Linked DNA regions of Homo sapiens. The protein of the gene in region 7 purifies or fractionates together with the protein of the main gene of each other region. This does not show direct contact. Each region holds a gene or a part of one and is shown on either strand. Other genes may lie near its edges. The genes, in order: NOCT, PC, FREM2, DCAF8, POLE, PCDH7 and DTWD2.

Region 1 (3,500 bases), on a different chromosome or scaffold from region 7:
AGGTTTTCACTTGAGGTCTCACTCCCTCCGTGGGAAGGCTGATTTTCTCCCATTCTAAGAATAACAATAAATAAAAAGTATCTTAGCTGCTTTCCGTGGAAGTCCAAACAGGTTTACTATGAGGCTAAACGCCCAGGCACACTGTCCTTCAAATTTCTAATTATCTACTGAAGTATAACCACCACTTAAGTGGCTATCAAAGCCCTATAAACTCTAATTAGTGGCCGGGCGTGGTGGCTCACACCTGTAATCCCAGCACTCTGGGAGGCCAAGGCGGGTGTATCACCTGAGGTCAGGAGTTCGAGAGGAGCCTGACCAACATGGTGAAACCCTGTCTCTACTAAATACAAAAAAATTAGCCGGGCATGGTGGCGCATGCCTGTAGTCCCAGCTACTTGGGAGGCTGAGGCAGGAGAATTGCTTGAACCCGGGAGGCACAGGTTGCAGTGAGCCAAGATTGCGCCACTGCACTCCAGCCTGGGCAACAAGAGCAAAACTGTCTAAAAAAAAAAAAAACCAGAAAAACTGTAATTAGTCACCAGTGACTCCTGACAGCAAATACAGACGCTGTATCTCCCTTCCTAACTCCAAGAAGCCAGAACACAATTACCTCACTTTTCTTTTAGTAAACATCATAGAAACCTCATTTTACTCTAAGTTGTGACTTAGAGTGACTACATGGATACACTCCCATTACAACCTCAGTCTCAAGTTTCCTCTCACTGAACTTTCATTAATATGCAAATTTCTTCCCTTTTTTTTTTCTTTGAGAGTAGCTGGGATTACAGGTGCGTGCCACCACGCCCAGCTCATTTTGTATTTTTAGTAGAAATGGGGTTTCTCCATGTTGGTCAGGCTGGTCTCGAACTCCCGACCTCAGGTGATCCGCCTGCCTTGGCCTCCCAAAGTGCTGGGATTACAGGCTTGAGCCACTGTGCCCGGCCCTGGAATTTCTTCCCTTTCTTAAAAGCTGCTTTTGGCGGGGCGTGATGGCTCATGCCTGTAATCTCAGCACTTTTGGATGGCTGAGGCGGGAGGATTGCTTGAGCCCAGGATTTCGAGACCAGCCTGGGCAACACGGCAAAACCCGTCTCGACAAAATATACAATTTTTTAAAGCTGCTTTTTTCGGGGGTCAATGTTCTTTCTCAGGGGTCTCTTGAACTGCCTTAGGCCCCAAGCTCAAAGATCCTTTTTTTTTTTTTTTTTTTGAGACAGAGTATTGCTCCTACTGTCGCCCAGGCTGGAGTGCAATGGCGCAATCTCGGCTCACTGATACCTCCGCCTCCTGGGTTCAAGTGATTCTCCTGCCTCAGTTTCCGAAGCAGCTGGGATGTACAGGTGTGCACCACCACACTTGGCTATTTTTTTTCTAATGTAAGTAGAGACAGGGTTTCACCATGTTGCCCAGGCTGGTCTTGAATGCCTCAGTTCAAGTGATCCGCACCTCGGCCTCCCAAAGTGCTGGGATTACAGGCGTGAACCACTGTGCCCGGCCAGACCAAAGGTCTTAAGGCTCTTCCAGAATCCTCTCCAGAGCTTCTCAAGCTTTCCAGGAATAAGTACCTTTGGGGAAAGGAGGGGCAGAGCTCATAAATACTCCCTAATCTTTTTGGAAGAATCCCCTGAGGCACTTGTTAAATATGCACTCCACCGGGCTTCTCCACAGGAAACTGATCAAGCAGAGGGCTGAAAGGCCAGAAATCTGCATTTTAACAACTGTCCCAAATGATTCTGCCTCTACCCCTTTTCCTAAGATGCTTGCCACAGCTCCTGCATGCGAGCGCCACCTTCTTCCAGGCATTGTGTGTGTGGTCTTCTCTGCCTGCCCCCACCACCCCGCAAACTGTCCCCTTCCAAAACACCCTCCTTTTTCACCTATTAGAAGCAAAGCATTTCTTGACAAATTCAGCCACACTGATTTCTTTCTTCTCAACTCCCACTGCAATTAGTCATGTCACCTTTTACATGTACTATTCAATAAAGCTTGTGGATAAATTGCTATCAATTGATCTTATTCATTTGTTCTAGGTAAAGTCTAGTGTTGAGACAGCAAGCAAGGTTAAATGATTTACAAATGTTAAGTGTGTGGAATGTGAATCTGGAGCCATGGTTATTAACCCCAAAGAACCCCAGTTCACCATGTTTAAACTGTTGCCATTGAATGCTAACAGAAAAATCATACATTAGTTTTCCCACAAGGAAAGCAATTTATTCCATAGCAGCTTGATAATGACAAGCTTTCCCGTTTCTTCTCTCTCATAAGCAGTTTACTCACATAGTTAAAGGACATATTAAATAAAGCTGCCTTCTCAAATGAGCTGGTGGCATTTGCCTATAAATTGTACCATGAAAAAAAGCAAATGTTCTAATGGTAGAGAACAGTAGTTCAGCCAGCTCTTCATTCTCTGAGGAGGAGGGATGTGGAGGATAGCATTTATAAATCCACAGATGACTTCCAACTGCGTTTCATCCAGTACAGTAACTGTGGCAACTGCTACTTCTTAGGGGGGCTGCTATCCTTGAGAAAAGAAAGCCAAACACCGAGATCATCCCTAGGGTCACCTTTTAATTCTAACAACCTGGAATCTGATAACTCCAAAGGGACTGTACTTATCTTCCCAATAACTACCAATTGCCAAGGGGCATAAGTTATGCAGGAACTGATTAGCAAATGTGGACAGCTGTCGGGACTCACTACTCCCCACCACAAGGCTCAGGAGTGGAGAGGAGCTTTTGGCCCCTTCAATGTCTCTCTCACATATGGGTGCCAGATGTCCAAATTTGAGGGCATAGAAGAACAATCTGGAGTTATTCTTTTTGTCATTTCATTTGGTTATGTGGAATCCAGGGCCCATCATGAATGACTCAGACTTAATAGGTCTACAGTAGGATCCAAGAATCTGCATTTTAAAAAAGCACTTCATAGGCTGGGCGCAGTGGCTCACACCTGTAATCCCAGCACTTTGGAAGGCCAAAGCAGGTGGATCACCAGAGCTGGGGAGTTTGAGACGAGCCCGGGCAACACGTTGAAATCCTGTCTCTACTAAATACAAAAATTAGCCCGGCACAGTGGCGTGTGCCTGTAGTCACAGCTGCTCAGGAGGCTGAGACAGGAGAACTGCTTGAGCCTGGGAGGTGGAGGTTGCAGTGAGCAGAGGTGGCGCCACTACACTCCATCCTGGGCAACAGTGCGAGAGAACCTTGTCTCAAAAAAAATAAAAATAAAAATTAAAATTAAAAAGCACTTAGTGCTGGGTCTGAGGCTCTTTGGAAAACAATGTCCATTTTTGCAAAGTGCCTCTTCTCTCACCCTTCCTCATCTGTGTGTGTCTCATGCCTTTCTGCATTTACTCCTGCTTTTTCCAAACAAAACGCTTTATAGTAATCTCTTCCAATCCTAACCATGCTTCAAGAGCCAGCTGAAATGCCACCCATTTCTAGAAGCCCAAAAGGGACTTCCTGCTTTCCTGCACCCTTGTGCCATTTCCAAGTCAAGAG
Region 2 (3,500 bases), on a different chromosome or scaffold from region 7:
GTCTCAAAAAAAAAAAAGAAAAAAAAAAACTTAGCCAGGTGTGGTGGCACATGCCTGTAAAATGTGCAGGGGAAGAAGGGCAGGTCCCTTTTTCCCCGTTGTTACCGTGACTGGCAAAGGTTGAGCGTCACCCTCTGGAAACCCGTGTCAAGTGACTTTACAACCAGCTGGCAGAACCACCTCACACCACAGCTGCCTGCTCTCCATGCTGACTCAAGGGGTCTTCTCAGAGACGGCCCAGCCCCAGGGATTCTTCCTGCCCAGCTTCCCAAGCTGACCATACCCTTCCAGAACCAGGGCCTTCTGCTGAGGCTGGCCAGCTGCCAAATGGGGCCAGCAGGGAGCCAGATGTCACTTTCCTGTAAAAATCAGGAGCAACTGGAAACAGACAAGACTGCTTAAACGGATATTATCCACAAATCAGAGCGCAGCCTTTTTTTATTGATTGAGCTTAAGACCTGACATGCCAAACTGCTGGCATCCACAGCTGCTCCTGGTGAAGACCCCCATGCATCCCGCCAGCCTGGATTCAGGCACAGGACTTACCCTTAGTGTTTGGTCAGCTCTCCAGAAGGCAGACACTATCTAAAGCAAAAGAAAAAACAGCATTACCCTCATTGCTCCAGGAACTTCCCAGAGAAAACAGGAGTGGCAAGAACACCGATTTTAGAACCCAGAGAACTTTTTCAGTCTTGTTACCCGGGCTGGAGTGCAATGGCGCAATCCCGGCTCACTGCAACCTCTGCTTCCCGGATTCAAGCGATTCTCCTGCCTCAGCCTCCTGAGGTAGTTGGGATTACAGGCATGTGCCACCACGCCCAGCTAATTTGGTATTTTTAGTAGAGATGGGGGTTTCTCCATGTTGGTCAGGCTGGTCTCGAACTCCCGACCTCAGGTGATCCACCCACCTCGGCCTCCCAAAGTGCTGGGATTACAGGTGTGAGCCACCGCACCCGGCCAAGAACTGTTTCTTTGCTTCCACTGAGGGCACCAGGAGGGTACAGAGCTGGAAGCGCCAGCTGTGCTGTCCCACTGCCTGGACTGCACCTCTTGTTACTCTGACAGCCGCTCTGTAATCACTCAAAGTCTGTTTCCTCATCTGTAAAATGGGAATAATAACAATGCCCATCTCACAGCGTACTAGGGAATACCCAATGAGGCAGCACACGCACAGCAGTGGCACCATGCCTGGCACAGAGGACACACTGGGACGTTAACCGACAGGCTAGGTGGGAAGCGCTTAAGTAAAACCCTTTTCTGCCACCCACTACACATGAACAAGAAGTTCTAGAAACAGTTCGTTTTATCTGAAGTGCTTTCTCTTCCTGCCCACTCCGTCCAGCCTCAGGCCCGCTTTCTCTGCATCTCCGCAGAGCTGTCTCTAATCCTTCAGGAGCTCCCTCTGAATACTGGGAGTCTGGTTCTTCTCTCACTCCACAACTTGAAACTAATAAGGAGCTGTCTTACGTGACCTGAGATGTGTACTCTATTTCCTGGCTATTTCCTCAAATCCTTTCCTGCAGAGACCCCTCTCTGCCATAAGTAAGAGCCCACCTCGTGTTTATGCCCATGGGAGCCCACAGTTGGTATTGTGTAATCACTTTTCGGAGTTTTATTGACTGCTTATTTCCGAAAAAGCCACACCTACCCTAGCCACTAGTCAATGAACAGCAAAATGGAAAAACAGGCCAGCAAGCTCAAATCCCTGTTCAGAGAAAACCAGCTGCCTTGACAGATAACGTCAAGGCTGAAATTCAATGTCTGGGGCACTCAAGTCAATAAAATATTTATTGAGCACATGCCTTGCACAAGGAACTGTATGTACACTCAGGCCCTGCCCACAAAGTGCCAAAAAGCAAGTTGTTAGGGGCTGGTTAAAAGAAGCAAAAATGGGATGGCACGTGAGAGGGACTCCAGCAGTGAGCCACCTAGCCTGCCTGGCTGTGTTACTCTGGGCGTTATTTCACCTCTCTGAGTTTCACCTATGAGAGTCCGTCATTTGTAAGAGATGGATCTAATAGGACCTTCGTAATAGGATTGTTGTGATAATCACATTATGTGTATGTAAGGGGCTTAGCAAGGCCGTCACCACCACACAGTAGTTGACTTTTATTATTAATAACAATAAATCATTACTTATCATCATCGTTATGAAAAGAGAGCCCAGTCCAACTGAATAGATTTGGCAAGCCTTAATAAAGTCCTGTGTCTCGAAGAATAATTTAATTTTGACAGGACAAGATAAGAAGCAAGGCCCTGCAGAAAACAAAGTCAACAAGAACAAGAGCAGAGGGGGGACCGTGAGAAGTGAGTTTGGGGTAACAGTGACTAATCTCACTATGGGGGCTGACACAGAAGAGGGTACCTGCGGAGGCAAATGGAAGAAAGAGCCCAACAGGTGGAATCATATTAGAGAGTCTTGAACGCCAAGATGAAGCAAGCTTTTCATTCGGTAAGTAAGAGGAAATGGTTTATTCTTTTGGCCATTTCCCATCTTCCACCGTCAGGCCCGACTCCTTTGGCAAAGTGTCCACAGGTGAGACTAGAAGGCAGCTAAGAGAAAGAGAGGAAGGCACGGTCAGTCAGGCCCAGGTGAGGTTTCAGAGTGAGCAGGCAAAATGCCCTGCTGCTGTGAAGGAGGCCTCTGGGTGAGAAACCTGCCCCAAAGCAGGAACTTTCAGGATACAAGAAACGGGGCCCATTCAGATGGGGGCAGGACGATATTGGGAGGCAGCCAAAGAGAAGGCCATGCTCATCCTCAATGAAAATGTTGACCAGAGGCCGGGTGCAGTGGCTCACGCCTGTAATCCCAGCACTTTGGGAGGCCAAGGCAGGTGATCACCTGAAGTCAGGAGTTCGAGACCAGCCTGCCCAACATAGTGAAACCCCATCTCTACTAAAGATACAAAAATTAGCCAGGCAAAGGGTTGGTGCCTGTAATCCCAGCTACTCAGGAGGCTGAGGCAGGAGAATCACTTGAATCCGGGAGGCAGAGGCTGCAGTGAGCCAAGATGGTGCCACTGTACTGCAGCCTGGGCAACAAAACAAGACTCCGTCTCCAAAAAAAAAAAAACACAGAAAACGTTGACCTGAACGAGGCCTCCAGCCCATGCAGAAGGTGCCAGTGAGAAATGTGGATTGCCAGATTTACTGCCATACTGACCTTGGTGCTGGCCATCCCTGCCACCTCCAAAAGTAACTCCTTTCCGTATTCCCCATCTTGCACCCTTCTCTCCTCACTGGTTCCCAGTTTGACCCCTTTTCAACTAATTCACCCAAAACACTCATTAGGCACCTACTTGTTCCTGGCACTATTAGGTACTGAGAGGACAGAGGGAAGAGGGACACAGGGAACTGTGGCTTGGGATAAGAGTAGTGAATCTGAGGTCCTGCCCTGCCACTGGTCCCAGAGCCCCCATGAGTGGTGGTGGGAGGACAGGTACCTATCACAGTGCCTGGGGCACTGGAAGTGAGACCGGGTGAAAGCAAGGAGCAGGACA
Region 3 (3,500 bases), on a different chromosome or scaffold from region 7:
TATTTTTGTAAATTCTCCAATGAAAGGATACTACAGTCTATTTTTAAAAAACTGAACATGAAGTGCAGAGCTGCCTAAGAGAAGAAAGGCAACTATTGGACATATGACCTCTCTCTCAGTATCAGTGTTGCTTCCTTATCTTGATCAAGAAATGGTTGATACTTACAGACACCAAATTAAGATGTGCACATCTGTTCTGAGAAGTTTGCCTTTTAAAATTCTGCAGTGACCAAGATGTCCAATGTGGCCAGCTTATGGCTAGAAGTCAAAGGGGATTCTAGCCAGCATCTGAAGGATAATCTGTAGGCATTATTCTTTTTCTCCTGACCTTATTTTTCTTTGAAACATGTTTACTAGCTTTTGGAAAGCTGAAGTTTTCCCCTTCTAAGCGAAATTTCTGCTATTTGGTAACAAACACATTGATGCAGAAAGGCAATGGGAGGCTTGCCAAGGAAGCTCACTCAAGTTCCTTGGCTTTGGGAGGTGAATGGTAAGCACTGTTACAAATTATATTTTTAAATATTGAGAGGGACCACATTGTACCAGTTCACTGAACTGGGGATGCCAGAGCGATGTCTTCTTGAACCAAATAAAAATATGGTCAATGATTCTGGCCACCTCCAAGACCATTTCTGGAATGATAGTTGCAGAGAGTCCCATCGTTTGGACCAGATGCTGGATAGAAAGCTAATAAAATGTCCTGTAGCCAATTTAAGTTCTAAATGTTATTGTGTGATTACGCTACTCCGAGGGATAACCTCATCTGTCAAAATGTTCCTTTATTCTATAAAGTATGTATAAGAGGCACTCTGATTATACACATTATATTAATAAATACCACTTTCTCCCTTCACCATCTGTAACAATGTTTCTTATTATCATTTATGGGTTCAATACTGCAAACATCTAGGCTCAGTTCTTAGAGAACATTGTCTTGTAGTGACTCTAACTCTATGGCATTTATTCATCACCAAAATCTCACCAACCCTCTAATTTCCCACAAATGTTGAGCACCAATAAGGTATATTACCATGCAAGAGCTCTACCATTACTCACTATATGCCAAAACAGAGCAGCATCTCTTAAAAATCTCTTTCAGAATTAACATATTCTTTGGTTTAATTTAAAATTAAATATGCAAACAAAACAAGGAGAGTCTGATGAGAATGAGAAGCAATTCAAATTCAAGTGAGTGAACTTCCTTCCCTCTATCTTTCCTTCCACTGTCTCCCAAGTAGTAGATCAGTTGATTTGTGGGTTGAGCCACCCTGGTCATAATTCTATGCTGTCTTCACCTATTTGAAAACTTGTCATAATAAACAGTGTGTTCACCAGTTTTCCAGACTAGCAACAAAAACCTTTCTAGTAATAATCTGTTATACAATTAATAAACAATGTGATAATTGCACCTTCAACATTCACACTAACATAGCAACAGTAGATTCCTCTTACACTTGTAAGAGAGTCTGTTAGCACCTTTTAATAGATTTATCTCCACTGCATAGAGAATATGTCTAAAATGAGGAGTACATTCCTCACATCATGGCTCTGTGTACATATGAGTACGTTGTTGCTGCCTTTGGGGCAAGAGGAAAGATGCCTTAATTTGTCCTTTGATGCAAAAAAGAGTATGGAGAATTCAAATCAAACTCCATTAGTACAGTCATATTCTCTAAGCAGCTTCATCACAGCCATCCTCCATTCTCTATGGTTTACCAGAAGTATTTAAGGTTCCATTGTGATCTTTTCCGAGGCACTTACGGAAAAGGTTGAATTCTACCTGCAGTCATCAAACTTCTGAGCTGTCATTGTGATGGCTCTGTGGGGGCACCATGGGCTCACTGCTGCTGGAGCCTTTCGGGGCATCCTTCCCCCTGAAACTTTCCTTGCCCCTGCACATCAGCACTGCAATGACAGTGAGGCAGATGGTGAGTAACCCTACCGTGGTGCCTCCCACCACAGTGACCAGGCTGACTGCAGAGCTGGGGCTGTTGAGCTCCCAGGGGAGGATGCCATCTGGAGGTGCTCTCCCATGGGGGATCTGCCTCTTGGTGCGGTCCAGGGCAATGTGCTGGATGTTTGTTCCTCGACTGTTTTCAGCACCAATCTCCCATGCCAGTGAGGGTGTGCTCCTGATCTCTCTCTTCTTCCGGCTCTTGGTGGTGGATTGGGGCTTTCCTTGACTCACCAGAGAATGGTACTCCACACTTCTTTTGCCAATACCTCGATTGGCATTGTCTTTCGATCTCACTGTATAGATCGTATGTATATACCATTCTCGGCCTAGAGCGACCTAGAAAGCACAACTCTATTTATTAGGAAATACTAGATACCATGTCAATCTAATCCACGACTCTTTGCAAGAGAAATTAATGGCAGAGATATTAATAAATGATTTTAGTCTGCAGAATTAACTTACTTAATATTTTTGAATGAGTACTAGGTGCAAGGCTCTGTGCAAAGCACTCTGTGATATATCCTGTGCAACTCTTAAGGGAGTGAATATGTGATACTTGTTGTCATAGAATGAGAGAGTTCTAAAGAACTATTAATAGATTATACAGTCTAGCTTATTCACTAAAAAAATGAGTAAATTAGAATATGCAGCAGTTAAGTGAGTTGCCCAATGTTACTCAACCAGTTAGTGGCAGAGGCAGGACTACAGCTCAAATCTTCTGAACCCCAGGACTCTTTTCACTGTGTCTTGCTGCTTATTGCATATAAGACCATAGGGGGAAAAAATCAATTTTCAAGCTTTTCTGGGGCTTTGGAAAAGGATGAATTTTCTGATGAGTCTTTGAAGCATGCAAGATTTAGGAAGGTCAGATGCTTTGAGATTTAATGGCAAAAATAAAAATAAAACATATCATACTTCAACTTCTTGTTTGAAAAGATTGAGAATAACAAACATGCTTTCTTAAGATCCTTCCTTAGGTTGAATGAAAATAACACATTTCTCCAGGCCATCCTGTCGGGTTAATTTTCAGTAAATATCCTAAAAGCCGCACTTGCTTCGGCAGAGATTTGCAGTGTAAGCACCTCTTGAAATTTGTGGCATTTGCTCAGTGTTGTGGCAGCTGCCTGTGTTTCCCTCCACCTTTGATCCCTGAGTCAGGAATTTGTATCTTGGTTTCTGAAATCTTTGAGAGTGGAGCTGTGCACAATTGCTTTCCTGAGTTCAGCAGTTCACACAAGATCACTCTAATTAAGATATTGGTGAAAAGTCAGCAGGAAGGAAGTTTTGAATAAGAAAAGCAGATTACTCAACTGTCAGACACAGATTTATATTCTGGGCTAAATAAGACTCTTCATTACACATAGTCTTAAAATAATATTAATACATTAATAAAAGTGATAAGAGCTATGAAAGCCAGATATATTGCTAACAAAAATAATAAACGCTGGGTTTATGGAGTGCTCACCATATGCCCAGCATAGGGTTATGTAGTTTATTTGCCATATCTTATTCAATGTTCCCATTAACTGTATGCAATATTACT
Region 4 (3,500 bases), on a different chromosome or scaffold from region 7:
CTGCCAAGAACAAGAACATAGCAGTGAAGGCAAAGGCTGAAAAAAGCAGGGACCAGGAGGTGGGGGTTGGGGTGGGGCTTCTTGCCAGTAGTGCCCCCTCCAAATACCCAGGTGTAGCACCCATCTTATTTGGAACACCAGGCAAGTCCGACTGTACAGGGTAGACTAAGAACACACTGCCAACCCAGGGGCAGCAGAATGCTCAAAAAGGTCATACCCATTAACTCAGGAATGAGTCAAAGGCATAAGAACCTGCTCAGGCAAGCAACCTGGGCTTCAGGACAGGCCCTGCCAAATATCATCTGCAGCATTCTGCAAATGGTACCTGGCATCTCCAAGGGTCATCTACTGTATCCTCCCGCTATGTGCTCACCATCAGCAGTTACTCCCCAGCTGCTCTACTTGGAGCTATAGCACAGTGGTGAGCACTGGAGGGCACATGCCTCACTGGCTCAGCAGCTCCCTAGACAGAGGGGGCATGCCAGCCTAGGAGCTGGGCCCTGCTCACGTACCTGTGCCGTCGTGGCTGTACACAAGACAGGTGATGTTTGCTTTGGACTCACTGTTCACCTGCAATAAGGAGCAGATACTGACTGATGCCCCACCCCCCCATTTGTTATACCATCTTCAGGAAACAGCTTTTCCTTCAAACTCCCCTATATCTTCTCCCAGAGATTTGAGAAAGACAGACAGAGACAAGAGTACAACTGATGAAACATGACCACCTCAGGGGGTAGCATCTTGGGGCTTTCTTTTGGTTGTCATCCATGTGCTAGCCATTTTATGTACACTGTCTCATTAGGCCTCACCATCAAGGTGCAAGGCAGTTATTTTTATTTCTATTTTGTCGATTAAAAAACTGAGGCTATCAGAAGTGAAGTGACTGCCAAGATCACAAAGCTGGTAAGTGGTAAAGCCAGGATTCAAATCCAGATGACTGACTTGAAAGTCCAAGCTCTTCCCACCATACCAACAAGTTCAGGTGCAGCCTTGGGGTTGAGTCAGGGAAGCCTGCAGCAACTGGCCCTTCATGAATCTTACCAGGTGATGAGGACAGAACTTCTTGAGTACTCCATTGTTCTCATTCTCATCAATTTTCCTCTGGTCATAAATCCTACAGTTGGAAAAGCAATGAAAATGTAAAAATGTACAAACGAAACCCTTGAAGAGCTGCAATTTGATGTAGTGGCAGGAAACTGCCAGCTGGATGCAGATAAACAACATTTTCCAAACCAAGCTTTTGGTTTGTGCTCTTCCTTAAAGGGCATCCCTTTTCCAATCCATTTCCAAACCCTAAATCTTTTGTTTGTTTGAGATGGGGTCCTGCTCTGTCACCCAGGCTGTAGTGCAGTGGCATGACCCCGGCTCACTGCAACCTCCGCCTCATGGGTTCAAGCAATTCTCTTGCCTCAGCCTCCTAAATAGCTGGGACTATGGGCACACACCACCACGCCCGGCCAATTTTTGTATTTTTAGTAGAGACAGAGTTTCATCTGTTGGCCAGGCAAACCCTTAAATCCTTTATCCACATACTTCCCATTTTAAGTGGCAATCCTCAATTCTGTCAGTTTGAAGTGGTTTATCTCTCTCCTCAAGTTTTATATCACATACTGCTACTTTTCACTGAAACAACTAACATTAGTATGGAGCTTTTTACATGTACATTACCTACCGAAAAAGGTTACTCACGGGCAGAAACCATGCTTAATGTAAGTCAATGGGTCTGTAATCCCTCCTTAAAACTGTATTTGGCCTGTTCTCCCTCTCATACCCCACAATAATTATTAAAAACTACCACCCATATCCTCAAGACTCCCTCTCCTTTCCTCATTCTTATCAAGCACACTACACCTTCACCTTCCTTCCTCTCTCTAATCCAAGCTTTAAACTCATGAGGACACACATATTATGTGTCAAATATTATGCTAGGTGCTAGAAATACAGTGAGGAACAAGACAGATCCAGTATCTGTTCTCACCCAGTCTCCTCCAATCTCAGAGCCAATCTCTTGAAAAATGCTTTTCATTTCATCCTTCCAGGGACCTTGTTTGATGATTATCTAATTTCTCAACCTCTTCCTCATCACCAGCTGGCCACTTTCTAAAAATCCTTCTGCTGACTGTCCTTTCCTACTATTGCTTTTTTTCTCCTTCCCCTTACAGTTACACTACTGAAAAGAACAATCAACATTCAATATTTCCACTTTCTTACTTCCTATTCACTTCTCAGTCCATCCTAATCTGGTTTTGGTTCTCAACTCACCACTGAGACTTCTCTGGCTGAAGTCATCAGTTAATTATATCCATTTGTTAAGTAGGTGTAAGTCTAGAGTTCAGAATAAGTGTGGTCTGCAGACACAGATGTAAGTCATATATCCGTGTGAAAGGTGGTAGTTAAAGCATTGGTAATGGAATTAGATCTCCAAGGGAAAATACAGAGAAGATTTTCCCTTCGCCCTTTAGAATCTCTGGCCTGTTTCAGAATATAATGAAAACTCTAGTCCCTTCTCCCCAGAAAAATGCACATAAGCATACTTTCTGGAGGTTCACATAATATTTGTACTTCAAGTTAAAATTCCCTGGTATAGAGTAAGATGAGAGCTGAAGACTGAGCTACTGGAGAACATCAGCATTTAATGGGTGGAGAAAGGAAGACACACCCATGAACAACACTGAGGAGTGGTTGGACATCAAGGAGAGAAGGTGCTTCAGGGAAGGAGTAATAATGTCAAGAGTAGAGAAAAAGACTTGAAAAGTACTTTGTTTGCTTTGGCAGTTAGGTTACTGATGACTTAAGCCTTGACATCCCCAGCTCACACGATCCTCCCGCCTCAACCTGCCGCGTAGCTGGGACTACAGGCACACACCACCATGCTGAGCTAATATTTTTATTTTTTGGTGGAGACAGCATCTGCCCAGCTTGGTCTCAAACTCCTGGCCTCAAAAGATTCTCCTGCCTCAGCCTCCCAAAGTGCTGGGATTACAGGTATAAGCCACTACACCCCAACTAAGTGTTTATTAATAGCTTACTATATTCTACATATGATGCTAGAACGGAGTTTGGCAAACTTTTTCTTAAAGGACAAGACAGTAAATGTTTTAAGCTGGTAAACTGGCAAACCATCTAATCTCTATTAAAACTATTGAATTCTGCCATTGTAGCATGAAAGTGGTCATAAACAACATGTAAAGTAAGGCCATGGCTGTGTTCCAATAAAACTTTATTTATAAAAACAAGCACTACAGTTTGTCAAGCCCTGTGATAGACAGTAAGCATAGAAAGATTAATACAAACTTTCCTACCACTTTCTGAACATATGATAGGCCCTTGATAGTTTATATTTTACTTTTAGTTATTTTTTTTGAGACAGGGTCTCACTCTGTCATCCAGGATGGAGTGCAGTGGTGTAATCACAGCTCACTGTAGCCTCAAACTCCTGGGCTCAAGAGATCCTCCTCTGCCTCCCAAGTAGTTGGGACTACAGGAGCATACCACCACAC
Region 5 (3,500 bases), on a different chromosome or scaffold from region 7:
GGAGCCGAATGTGGAGATGTCCTCTGGTAGGTTCCCAATGGGAATGTGAAAGTACCTGCACCAGGGCACAGGTCAGCACCGGGGCACATCGCCGGGTCACAGAGACCACCGAGGCCGGCTCTGCCTGGGGACCACTGGCCCACAACGACAGTACTGTGCTCACCTGCTCATCTCGAAGGCCTGCGACAGGCAGGTGTCCAGGTTGAGGTAGTGACGGATCATGCGCCGGGCTCCATGGCGCTGCCAGTCCAGGACCCCATAGTTGATCTTGTCAGCCACACAGATAGGCACCAGTGGGAATTCCTCCAAGACAGGAATTTCACTGGCCAGCCTCTTCAGCTCCCAGCTGGACTGAACAGCGATGAGTGTGGGCCCCCGGCGCTCCTCCTGGGTCAAGGCAAAATGGAAGAAAAGACCTGGGTGGACCCAGCCTCAAAGAAGATGGGGCTCACACAGCAAGACCCCAACCACTCTCACCTTGTAGGCGAGCAGGAATCGCTGGATGGCTCTGCAGATGGTCTTCAGGTCAGTTTCTGCCCGAACTTCGAAGGTGTGTTTGGGGGGTGGCAGGAGCTCAGGGCCCACCTTCTCCAGGAGGAGGCCGTGCTCTGCTGAGTACAGGGCGCCAAGGCTGGGCATCTGGTTGCTGCGCACCTAGACCAACGCAGGCCACGTCAGCCTCCCCCTGCGCAGGAGGAAGTGGGGGCAGCCCTGGGGCAGACTCCACCACTGCCACGGCACTGCCAATTCAATCACGACAAGCACTCATGGGCAAAGGCCCTTGAGGACAAGACCTGGAGGGCCTGGGCACCCTGGGAGATGTCCTCCTTCCCCAAACCCTGCCCCAGCCAATGTGCTGCCATGGAGGGCCCAGGACTCACAGTGTCCAGCACAAAGACGGATGCCCTGCGCTGTGAGGGGATGAAGATCCCGAAGAGCGCTTTGTGGGCCTGTGCGTGGTGGTACAGGTAGATATGGCGGATACTCCCTGGAGAAGGAAACAAGACCGTCACCCCAGATGTGTGGGAGGCAGGCACATGATGGGCGGCTGGTGCAGGCCATACCTGGTTCCAGGTAGCTGAACTGGGCCAGAGAGCGCATCTCCAGGTGCTCAAGAGCAAAGGTCTCTGCTTCCCAGCCTGAAAGGTGCCTCACCAGCTGTTTATTGACCACACACACACAGCCCAGGTGCACCAGGGCCCGGAACAGTAACGGAACCTGGAAGAATCGGGCAGACAGGCCGGCAAGGGCTGGATGGTGGGGGCTCTGGCTGCCCACGTGACTTCTGCCCGGGATGTGGCTGTGCCCCTGCAGCTGCCCGGCCCACTGCCCAAAGGCCACTTTTGGCAGACACACTGCTGACATTCACCTCACCTGTGGGAACGAGTCCACTGTCGCTGCTGTTCCCCAGCCCACACCCTGGGCGGGTTTCTTTCCTCCATACCACCCTGCTGGAGCCTCCCCCAGTTCAGTCGAGGGTGGCTGGGGAGTCACCTGAGTCTCATATACGCCCTCGATGTCTGGCGCTGACAGCTCAGCGTTGATCTCGTTGATGTGTTCCTGGTACATGTCCTCTGGCACTGAATACTCATAGAGATTGTAGACCATGTTGGAGCGAGGAAGGACCCGATTTACCTGGCGAGAATACGACGATGATCTCGTCACTGGGCGTAAGTGGTAATGTCTGTGGTACACACACAAAGCACACGCTATTCGGAGTCCTAGACTTCTGGTGCCCCTAGCGACGGGGTACACCCACCACGCCACAGTCCACCTCTCTCAATGATTACAACTAAAAACTCTGGATGTAATTTTTATGTTATTTATTTATTTTTTACAGACAGGGTCTTAGTCTGTTGCCCAGGCTGGAGTGCAGCAGTGTGATCACAGCTCACTGCAGCCTCCAACTCCTGGGCTCAAGTGGTCCTCCAGCCTCAGCCTCCTGAGTAGCTGGGACAAGGAACACACCACCACGGATGGCTTTTTTTTTTTTTTTTTTTTTTTGTAGAAAGGAGGTCTCACTATGAGGCCCAGGCTGGTCTCAAACTCCTGGACTCAAGTGATCCTCCCAAATCGCTGGAACTGCAGGTGTGAGCCACTATGCCTGGCCTCTGGACGCAATTTTGAAAAGCAACCTGCAGCCTCTGAGAATAGACAAGAGCTGTCAGAATACAGCAGTCAACACTGATCTGGGGAGGTTCCCAGTTCATCTTCCTCCATTCTCTCATGGGTTTAACCTGAGGGTGTAGATGGCAAAAACTGAGAGAAATCACATTTTCCTAGTCAGAGAAACGGAAAGAGAGCCCCTGGGGGAGCCAGAGTGTGTGTGTGGGGTCCTGGGGGGCTCTGGGAGAGCTGGAGAGGGGCACCCTAGCTTCGTGAATGGGGTCCTGGAGGGGTCTGGGAGAGCTGGAGAGGGGGCACCCTAGCTCCCTGTGTGGGGTCCTGGGGGGGTCTGGGAGAGCTGGAGAGGGGCACCCTAGCTCCCTGTGTGGGGTCCTGGGGGGGTCTGGGAGAGCTGGAGAGGGGGCACCCTAGCTCCCTGTGTGGGGTCCTGGGGGGGTCTGGGAGAGCTGGAGAGGGGCACCCTAGCTTCCTGTGTGGGGTCCTGGGGGGGTCTGGGAGAGCTGGAGAGGGGCACCCTAGCTTCGTGAATGGGGTCCTGGGGGGGCCTGGGAAAGCTGGAGAGGGGGCACCCTAGCTTCCTGTGTGGGGTCCTGGGGGGGTCTGGGAGAGCTGGAGAGGGGCACCCTAGCTCCCTGTGTGGGGTCCTGGGGGGGTCTGGGAGAGCTGGAGAGGGGGCACCCTAGCTTCCTGTGTGGGGTCCTGGGGGGTCTGGGAGAGCTGGAGAGGGTGCACCCTAGCTTCCTGTGTGGGGTCCTGGGGGGTCTGGGAGAGCTGAAGAGGGGGCACCCTAGCTCCCTGTGTGGAGGGCTGGGGGAATTCTGGAGAGGCGAGCTGGAGAGGGGTACCCTAGCTCCCTGTGTGGAGGGCTGGGGGAATCCTGGAGAGGAGAGCTGGAGAGGGGGCACCCTAGCTTCGTGTGTGGGGGGCTGGGGGAATCCTGGAGAGGAGCACCCTAGCTTCATGCATGAACCAGCAGCACAAGTCCCAGGCTCACTACGAGCTGCACTTGCACAGGTGACCCAAAACAACGCAGCAGAGGCTCTGGAGGCTGAGCTGACATTGGAAGCTTTGCACAAAGAGGCAAGGAAGAGCTTGGGCACTGGAATTAACCGTGTTGGTTGTTGCTAAAACAAACAAACAAAAAAACCTGACACGCTAAAGGATTTTTAAAAATACCCAAAGTCTCAAATATGTAAAATGTCCAGGTTGCAATAAAGCGTTATTTGGCGTAACAACAACCAGGAAAATCTGAATAATTCTCAAGCGAGAAGAGAACCAGTAGGGTTAGATTTTTCCAGTAACATGAAATTAGACCGACACACACACACACCCACACACACACACACAAAATCAAAGAAATGAAAAATTATGTT
Region 6 (3,500 bases), on a different chromosome or scaffold from region 7:
ACCACAGAGGAAGTTGACAAGCCTAATTGGCTGAGACATGTTGCAATGTTTGTCATCAAATTTAGAAAAATAATCAAGAAGGGCTATAAGAGATTCATCACAAGCAATCAAAACTTCCAATTTGGTTGACTAAAGTGAATCTTCCAAAGAAATACCAATGATTAACAAATGCAATCTGTATTACGATGCAACTTATTAAAGAAGGGCATGAGTGGAAAAGTATTTTTCTTTGTTTACATATTTTCTTATTTTAATTATGCATGCATATATTATGAATTTTTTCAACACAAAATTTATGCAGGATCTTAGATAAACATCACATGCAATTATTTCTTCTTTCCATAAAAGACATACTTTTAAACTGTCCTATTTTTTTGTGGCATTATAGAGGAAAGCCTTTCACAATTAGTAACTCTTCTTAGTCTTTCACTGAAGGATGTCTTTTCTAACATCTAAGAACATTATTTTATGCTTTAGTACTGTTGTTTTAAATTTTGATCTCAGTGAAGATGGAAGACACTTGATCACAAATCTTAGCTGGCATTGAGTAAATCAATACAAATGAACAACAGGAAAATAAAATAGTATTCTCTGTAAGCATTTTCCACAATAAAGCCAGTTCCTTAGAGAATTTTTTGTTGTTGTTTCTGTATTTCTCAACGCCCGCATACCCCATCAATCATATCAAACCTTGAGAAGACTGGAAGTAAAAAAATGGTATCCATCAAATCCTGTTCTTGCTTAGCATTACTTGTAGAGGTTTCCATTTTAACCAAGTTATGCTATTTACTAGAATCATTGCATCTTATTAGAAAGTTAAGATCCTTTCCTAGACATAAGGTTAATATCTCTCTTGAAAGTAGAGTTTTTTTTCTTTTCTTTTTTTTTTTTTTGAGACAGGATCTCACTCTGTTGCCCAGACTGGAGTGCAGTGGTGCAATCTTGCCTCACCGCAACCTCTGCCTCTCAGGCTCAAGCGATTCTCCTGCCTCAGCCTCCTGAGTAGCTACAGTTATAGGCGCGCACCACTACCACCTGGCTAATTTTTGTATTGTTTCAAAATACAATGGGGTTTCACCATGTTGACCAGGCTGGTCTTGAACTTCTGACCTCAAATGATCCACCTGCCTTGGCCTCCCAAAGTGCTGGGAGAAAGTAACAGTTTTTAAGCCATCAAACTAGCAAACAATCTTAGAACAATTCATAACACATGAAGTACTTCCCACATGAAGTTCATCTCTTTAATTTAGCACCTCAATCATATAGCAAGGAGGATGGAACAGCGAACGGGTCCAAGCTACGGGAGAGCTGAAGCCGAAGAATAAGTGTTTTGACTTTCAATTTACTGTTTTCCCACTACAACCCATTGCTTCTTCTTAAAATATAACAGCTGAGTTATTTAGAGGTCAATGACTGCTACTCATAACCATCTGAACAAGCTACAGTCTGCAGAGAAAGAGAAAAAAAAATCTGAGTAGCACAGGAAATAGATGTCACAGAGTCACAAATTTTACTACTTAGTGAAAAGAATGAAACAACCTCCCTAAAACTATACATTTTGGAAAGTGGAGAAAATTATATGTTTTCTTAAGAAGTCAGATTATCTCTCAAAAACATAGTATTTTTGTTTTTACTAGGCAGGGTAGATGGATGGGTGGTGGGCAGATGCTGCTAGATGCTGTTACAATGACCTCAACAAGAAGTGACAGATAGATAATAGAATCTTTAGAAATAACAAGGAAAGCCCAGGTTTAGAGAGGAATTTCATGTTTCCAGAAGATGCCTTACATAATTCAGAACCCATTAGAGACAAAATTATTATAGGAGAGCACAGTAGACTCATTAAGACTTGAAGACAGTTCTGCACCAGGAAGGATTTTAAGTATGCTGAGTTTTGCATCCTGTCAGAATCCCAGACACTCACTCTACTCCAGGTCCTTGGCTTGAGGCTAGAGATACATGGATCTTTGCATTTGCTGAGAGAAGGTATGAACATGTTATATTTAGTATTAAAATATTTCCAATGAGTTTTCTTAAAGATCAGATATGTAAAACTGTATGTATCATTTATTTGTTTAACTCACATATTATTTAATTTGCTGGCCATGTGAGATAAACGGATTGTTAAGTCAACGTATGGACTTCCCAGATGCCCACACCATTCCTCCAATTTGTTCATTAACATCAAGCTCTGGCATATGATTAACATTACTTGACAAAATCTGCAAAAAAATAAGAAGTATTTTCTTCTTTTTATTTATTTTGTTTTATTTTATTTTATTTTTCGAGAAGGGTCTCGCTCTGTCATCCAGGCTGGAGTGCAGTGGCACGATCTCGGCTCATTGCAACCTCTGCCTCCTGGGTTCAAGCGATTCTCATGTCTCAGCCTCCTGAGTAGCTGGCACTACAGGCATGCACCACCAAACCAGGCTAATTTTTTGTATTTTTAGTAGAGATGAGGTTTGGCCATGTTGGCCAGGCTGGTCTCGAACTCCTGATCTCAAGGGATCTGCCCTCCTCAGCCTGCCAAAGTGCTGGGATTACAGGCGTGAGCCTCTGCTCCCGGCCTGGTATTTCTTTCCTTTAGAGACAAAATAACAAAACAACACAAAACAAAACCACATGCAGGAACTTTTTCCTTTTTTCCTTTTTAAAGTGTTTGGTTTTCTTTCTATGTTTCTTGACTTCCCTCTACACAAAGACTTATTTTTTCTAGAAGCACACTTAAATGCTAGTGAAATTTGGTGGACTTACAAAAGGTTTTACAAAAGGGTAAACAAGAAAAACAAAAGATCAGTGAAAAATGTTTTACAACAAATGTTTTAACATTCCCTTCACTGTCATTAGTCTAAATGAAAATATCTTTTACTCAAATGATTAAATAAATGCTTTATTTTAAAATACCTGTTAGAAAATTGTTTACTTTTATTTTATATGATAGGGCTGAGAAAAAAATAATTAAATGCTGGTTAACCAAAACTTTTTTTTGGATGATTATTATCATAGTTAATAAAGATTGGAGGTGAGGAGACAAGATCCAAAAGATGCACAAGTGAGTTGGACTTGGCTTTTTCACGTAAATAACTAAAATATCCCTGCCTTTTGCCGGTTTGGGGAATTTAGGAAGACTGGACAGGCAAACACATCACAGTTCACGGTCAGGGCGGGAATCACTGACTCAGACCAGCAGTTTGTGATCCTCTAAATGTAGGAACACTTTCTGGAAGAGGAGAAATTTATAGTTATCTAAGTAAGTGTCACTCTGGCCACAAAAAGGCCATTAAGATTTCCAAAGAGTTTTTTAATTTATTACAGGATCACTTGATTTAACCAAAATAGAAGAGTATAGGAACACTGGCTAATCAATCAATCCTTGCTGTGGCATCATCTGTACCATTCCTGGGCCCTTCCTGCAAAGAGCAATGAACTTTTAAAAAGAGCAGGAGATTTAGAGTCCCAGTATTGCTCAGTGTGATTCCAGGCTCAACCACGTAGAAGCT
Region 7 (3,500 bases):
TACTTACAACTGTTTAATGAGAACAGGTGACTAGAGAAGCATTTTATACCACAGATGATTAAATGGACTCACCTTGTTAAGAGGTCAGGAAAAAATAAGTAAAAAACAAGTACAGTGAGTTAACAGGTCAGTAAAGTAATTTGGAAAACTATACATACTTCAAGAAAATTTTATACATTTCCAAAAACACTAAATTTTAAGCTTTTTAAGTCTTCAAAAATACTCTAAAATGTTTTATTTAAAAGATAAAAGTAGAAATTACTCTTAAAAATCAATAAAGTAAAATTTTGAGATACAAAATGGTATACTGGGGGTAGGGGGAGTTTTCTTTTTAAAAAATAATAATGATGGCTGGGCACGGTCCCAGCACTTTTGGAGGCCAAGGCAGACAGATCACGAGGTCAGGAGATCGAGACCATCCTGGCTAATACGGTGAAACCCCATCTCTACTAAAAATACAAAAAATTAGCCGGGCGTGGTGGTGGGCACCTGTAGTCCCAGCTACTCAGGAGGCTGAGGCAGAAGAATGGCGTGAACCCAGGAGGCAGAGCTTTCAGTGAGCCAAGATTGCGCCACTGCACTCCAGCCTGGGCGACAGAGCGAGATTCCATCTCAAATAATAATAATAATAATAATAATGACTAAAAGAAACTCATGAAGTTTAATATCAATGTGAAAAATTACTACAAAATGATTTTAGCCCCACTTGTTAAGAAACTATTATACATTATTATATGCTGTTTCTTTTCTAGTACACCAAATAATCATTTGATATTAAGTGCTTTACATTGTAAATGAGCTAGTTTGTTTATTTATTTATTTATTTTAGACAGGTCTCACTCTGTAGCCCAGGCTGGAGTGCAGTGGAATGAACATAGCTCCTTGCAACCTTGATGTCCTGGGCTCCAGCGATCCTCCCACCTTAGCCTCCCAAGTAGCTAGGACTACAAGTGCACACCACCACATCTGGCTAATTATTTTTTTTTTAATTTTGTATGGAGATGGAGTCTCACCATATTGCCCAGGCTGGTCTCAAACTCCTGGGCTCAAGCAATTCTCACATCTCAGCCTCCCAAAGTGCTGGGATTACAGGTGTGAGCTAATGGGCCCAGCCCTAATTTGTTTTTAAATCCAAAAATAAATCAACAATAGAAGCCAGCACTCTTTTAATATTTTAAAATATTTTCTGCATAGTTTCCCCAAATATTAGCATTCTAATTGTGACCAGCATTATACCTTTTAATGAGTCTAATCCAAGTAAATAATAAACAAATGATCATGAAAACTGTGAGAAATAATCATTGGTGTATGCTCTATAAATAGTTACCAAGTTTACCTTTAAATGGCATGTTTAGTTTTTCCTTACAACTTAACACTAGATACAGGAAACTCTAGAACTCATAAACAAAGACTAAACAAAATCCCCTCTTCCTGCCAAAATGTGTACATAATTGCAGTAGACTTGTGCTGAATATACATATATGTTACATACATGTCTCTTATTCTATACAAAATCTCAGCAAATATTTTCCCACAGAGCAGGAAGAATTTTTTCTCTCAAATGGAAAGTTTTTGCTCGTTAAAAAGGTTATATTAAATAGCCCTAAAGAAATATGTTCTGAAAATAACAATTGTATCATATTCCACTTATTATTTTCCATATGAAAACATCAATAAAATAAGTTTACCAGAGTCAATAAGCCTGTTCAATGAACACTGAAAAATACAAATTTATCCAGAGTGATTACAAATGAAAATGTGTGCTATTTCAAAATTACATGCACCTCTTTAAAAATCAGGGCAATTAATAGAGCGCTTAAATCATATTAGCTGAGTTCAAATTTGGCCCCTAAACAATACTTAAAATTTCCTTATTCCTTTATACTATTTTACAAAATAATAAATTACTTGATTATCATAATTTTCTTTTGCTACTTATTTCAAACTGTAAAGTCAGGACTGCAAACTGATGTAGGAATCTTATATTATTGGTCTACACCTAATTATTTATAAACATTAATGGACACAACACCGTTCCAATCCACTACAACAATTTTCTTCTATTTTACAAGTAAGAACTTCTAACCTATCACAACAACAAATCATATTTTAAATTTGGGTTTGAAAACATGTATTAGAGGCACATTTTTAAAAACAAGTACAGTAGGAAATCCTGCTTTTCAGTGAGCCAGTGAATTTCTGTTTATTTGTATTTATGAATATTTGGTTTACTTCCTTCTTCTGGGTAAGATTAGTATGCAATTCTCCTTCTTTAGCAAGTCAAAAACCTACAGACCTTAACTATATGAAAACTTAATTTGGTATTGTTAGATGAAGACAGTTAAGCTAGCACCAAAAGAATAACTGTACTAAATTTTAACACTATTCATTAACAATTCCATTTTCCTGAGTTTGCGTTTGTTCTTTGGCATTGGTTTAGGATATAATCCATTTTTCAGAAGGTGTTCCTTGCTGAGGCGAATTTGGGCACCATGCTGAAGTTGAAAGGAGCATAAAGCTTGAAGAGGGCGAAGCAAAGTCTGTCAAGAGAAAAAAGACACTAAAAAAGTATCTGTGACAAATCATGATATTCTATCTATATTTTTCATTCAGAAATAGGAGTTACTATGTTTCTTTTATTATGATTGGCTTTTAACTATGAGAAACACTAGGCACTCTGATAAATATATAATTATTTCTAGATAAATAATGTCTTTAAAATTCATGCCTTAATATTACACTAAGGAATTTTATTAAAAAGATACAAATACTGATTTTCCACATAGGTAATAAAGTCTGGCATTAGTTTTATACATTATTCAAACACCACAAAAAATTGTTGCCATTATAATTGAATCCATAACAAGGAGACTAAATGAGACATTTAAATACAAAGATAAGTACACCAAAATAGTCAATTCAGTTTCTATGACAAATTAATGCAAGCTTACTGACACCTGACAACAATTAGATGATGGCAGCAATGGGTAAACGGTTTGCTATTTCTCTCACATTAGTGCCATGGACCACATACAAGTTAGATGCCCAGGTCTTGGTGCGTTTGAAATTATTCTAACAATATCTGAACTGTCTAAATTCAAATACCTATAGGCCAGCCATGTAACAGAAACACGTAAACTGGGTGGATCTTTACAAGCCAACAGAGAATAGTGGCGGCTGTAATACAACTGGAGTATACGCTCTACCTGAAGTTATTCAAATTCAAAAATTAAAAAAAAAACAACACTATGCCAGTGTTTTAAACATATTTTGGGTGAGATTCCTTCCTTGGGCCTGAGACCCCTGATGAAGATATTTTCAAAAATAACAGCAAAAAAACTTAATTAAACAGATTGTTAAAGGAGCACAAAAGAAACAAAGAAAAAACTGATAGATTTAACTACAAAAAATTCACAATGTCTACGTGAAAATGTATTAACCCACAAAGAAAACCCCACATGAATTAACAAATGTAGTAAGGGTTCTCTTACATGCGGCCA

Evidence for each region.
Region 1: the proteins of DTWD2 (region 7) and NOCT purify together in Homo sapiens (affinity purification with mass spectrometry; one large-scale study listed by BioGRID and IntAct). This does not show direct contact.
Region 2: the proteins of DTWD2 (region 7) and PC purify together in Homo sapiens (affinity purification with mass spectrometry, with the first as the bait; one large-scale study listed by BioGRID). This does not show direct contact.
Region 3: the proteins of DTWD2 (region 7) and FREM2 purify together in Homo sapiens (affinity purification with mass spectrometry, with the first as the bait; one large-scale study listed by BioGRID). This does not show direct contact.
Region 4: the proteins of DTWD2 (region 7) and DCAF8 purify together in Homo sapiens (co-immunoprecipitation; one large-scale study listed by IntAct). This does not show direct contact.
Region 5: the proteins of DTWD2 (region 7) and POLE purify together in Homo sapiens (affinity purification with mass spectrometry, with the first as the bait; one large-scale study listed by BioGRID). This does not show direct contact.
Region 6: the proteins of DTWD2 (region 7) and PCDH7 purify together in Homo sapiens (affinity purification with mass spectrometry, with the first as the bait; one large-scale study listed by BioGRID). This does not show direct contact.

Annotation. Positions count from the first base shown.
Region 1 is NC_000004.12:139,018,781-139,022,280, reverse strand, and holds part of NOCT (nocturnin), read right to left. Parts: intron 1-3,500. UniProt on the Homo sapiens protein: Phosphatase which catalyzes the conversion of NADP(+) to NAD(+) and of NADPH to NADH. Shows a small preference for NADPH over NADP(+). Represses translation and promotes degradation of target mRNA molecules.
Region 2 is NC_000011.10:66,951,884-66,955,383, forward strand, and holds part of PC (pyruvate carboxylase, mitochondrial precursor), read right to left. Parts: intron 2,554-3,500; 5' UTR 2,366-2,553; intron 586-2,365; 5' UTR 547-585; intron 1-546. UniProt on the Homo sapiens protein: Pyruvate carboxylase catalyzes a 2-step reaction, involving the ATP-dependent carboxylation of the covalently attached biotin in the first step and the transfer of the carboxyl group to pyruvate in the second.
Region 3 is NC_000013.11:38,879,077-38,882,576, reverse strand, and holds part of FREM2 (FRAS1-related extracellular matrix protein 2 precursor), read right to left. Parts: intron 2,294-3,500; coding exon 1,790-2,293; 3' UTR 1-1,789. UniProt on the Homo sapiens protein: Extracellular matrix protein required for maintenance of the integrity of the skin epithelium and for maintenance of renal epithelia. Required for epidermal adhesion. Involved in the development of eyelids and the anterior segment of the eyeballs.
Region 4 is NC_000001.11:160,224,550-160,228,049, forward strand, and holds part of DCAF8 (DDB1- and CUL4-associated factor 8), read right to left. Parts: intron 1,115-3,500; coding exon 1,042-1,114; intron 571-1,041; coding exon 513-570; intron 1-512. UniProt on the Homo sapiens protein: May function as a substrate receptor for CUL4-DDB1 E3 ubiquitin-protein ligase complex.
Region 5 is NC_000012.12:132,642,343-132,645,842, forward strand, and holds part of POLE (DNA polymerase epsilon catalytic subunit A), read right to left. Parts: intron 1,685-3,500; exon of another isoform or gene 1,636-1,684; coding exon 1,495-1,635; intron 1,219-1,494; coding exon 1,065-1,218; intron 989-1,064; coding exon 882-988; intron 655-881; coding exon 478-654; intron 388-477; coding exon 164-387; intron 56-163; coding exon 1-55. UniProt on the Homo sapiens protein: Catalytic component of the DNA polymerase epsilon complex. Participates in chromosomal DNA replication.
Region 6 is NC_000004.12:31,136,369-31,139,868, reverse strand, and holds part of PCDH7 (protocadherin-7 isoform d precursor), read right to left. Parts: intron 1-3,500.
Region 7 is NC_000005.10:118,838,548-118,842,047, forward strand, and holds part of DTWD2 (tRNA-uridine aminocarboxypropyltransferase 2), read right to left. Parts: intron 2,541-3,500; coding exon 2,370-2,540; 3' UTR 1-2,369.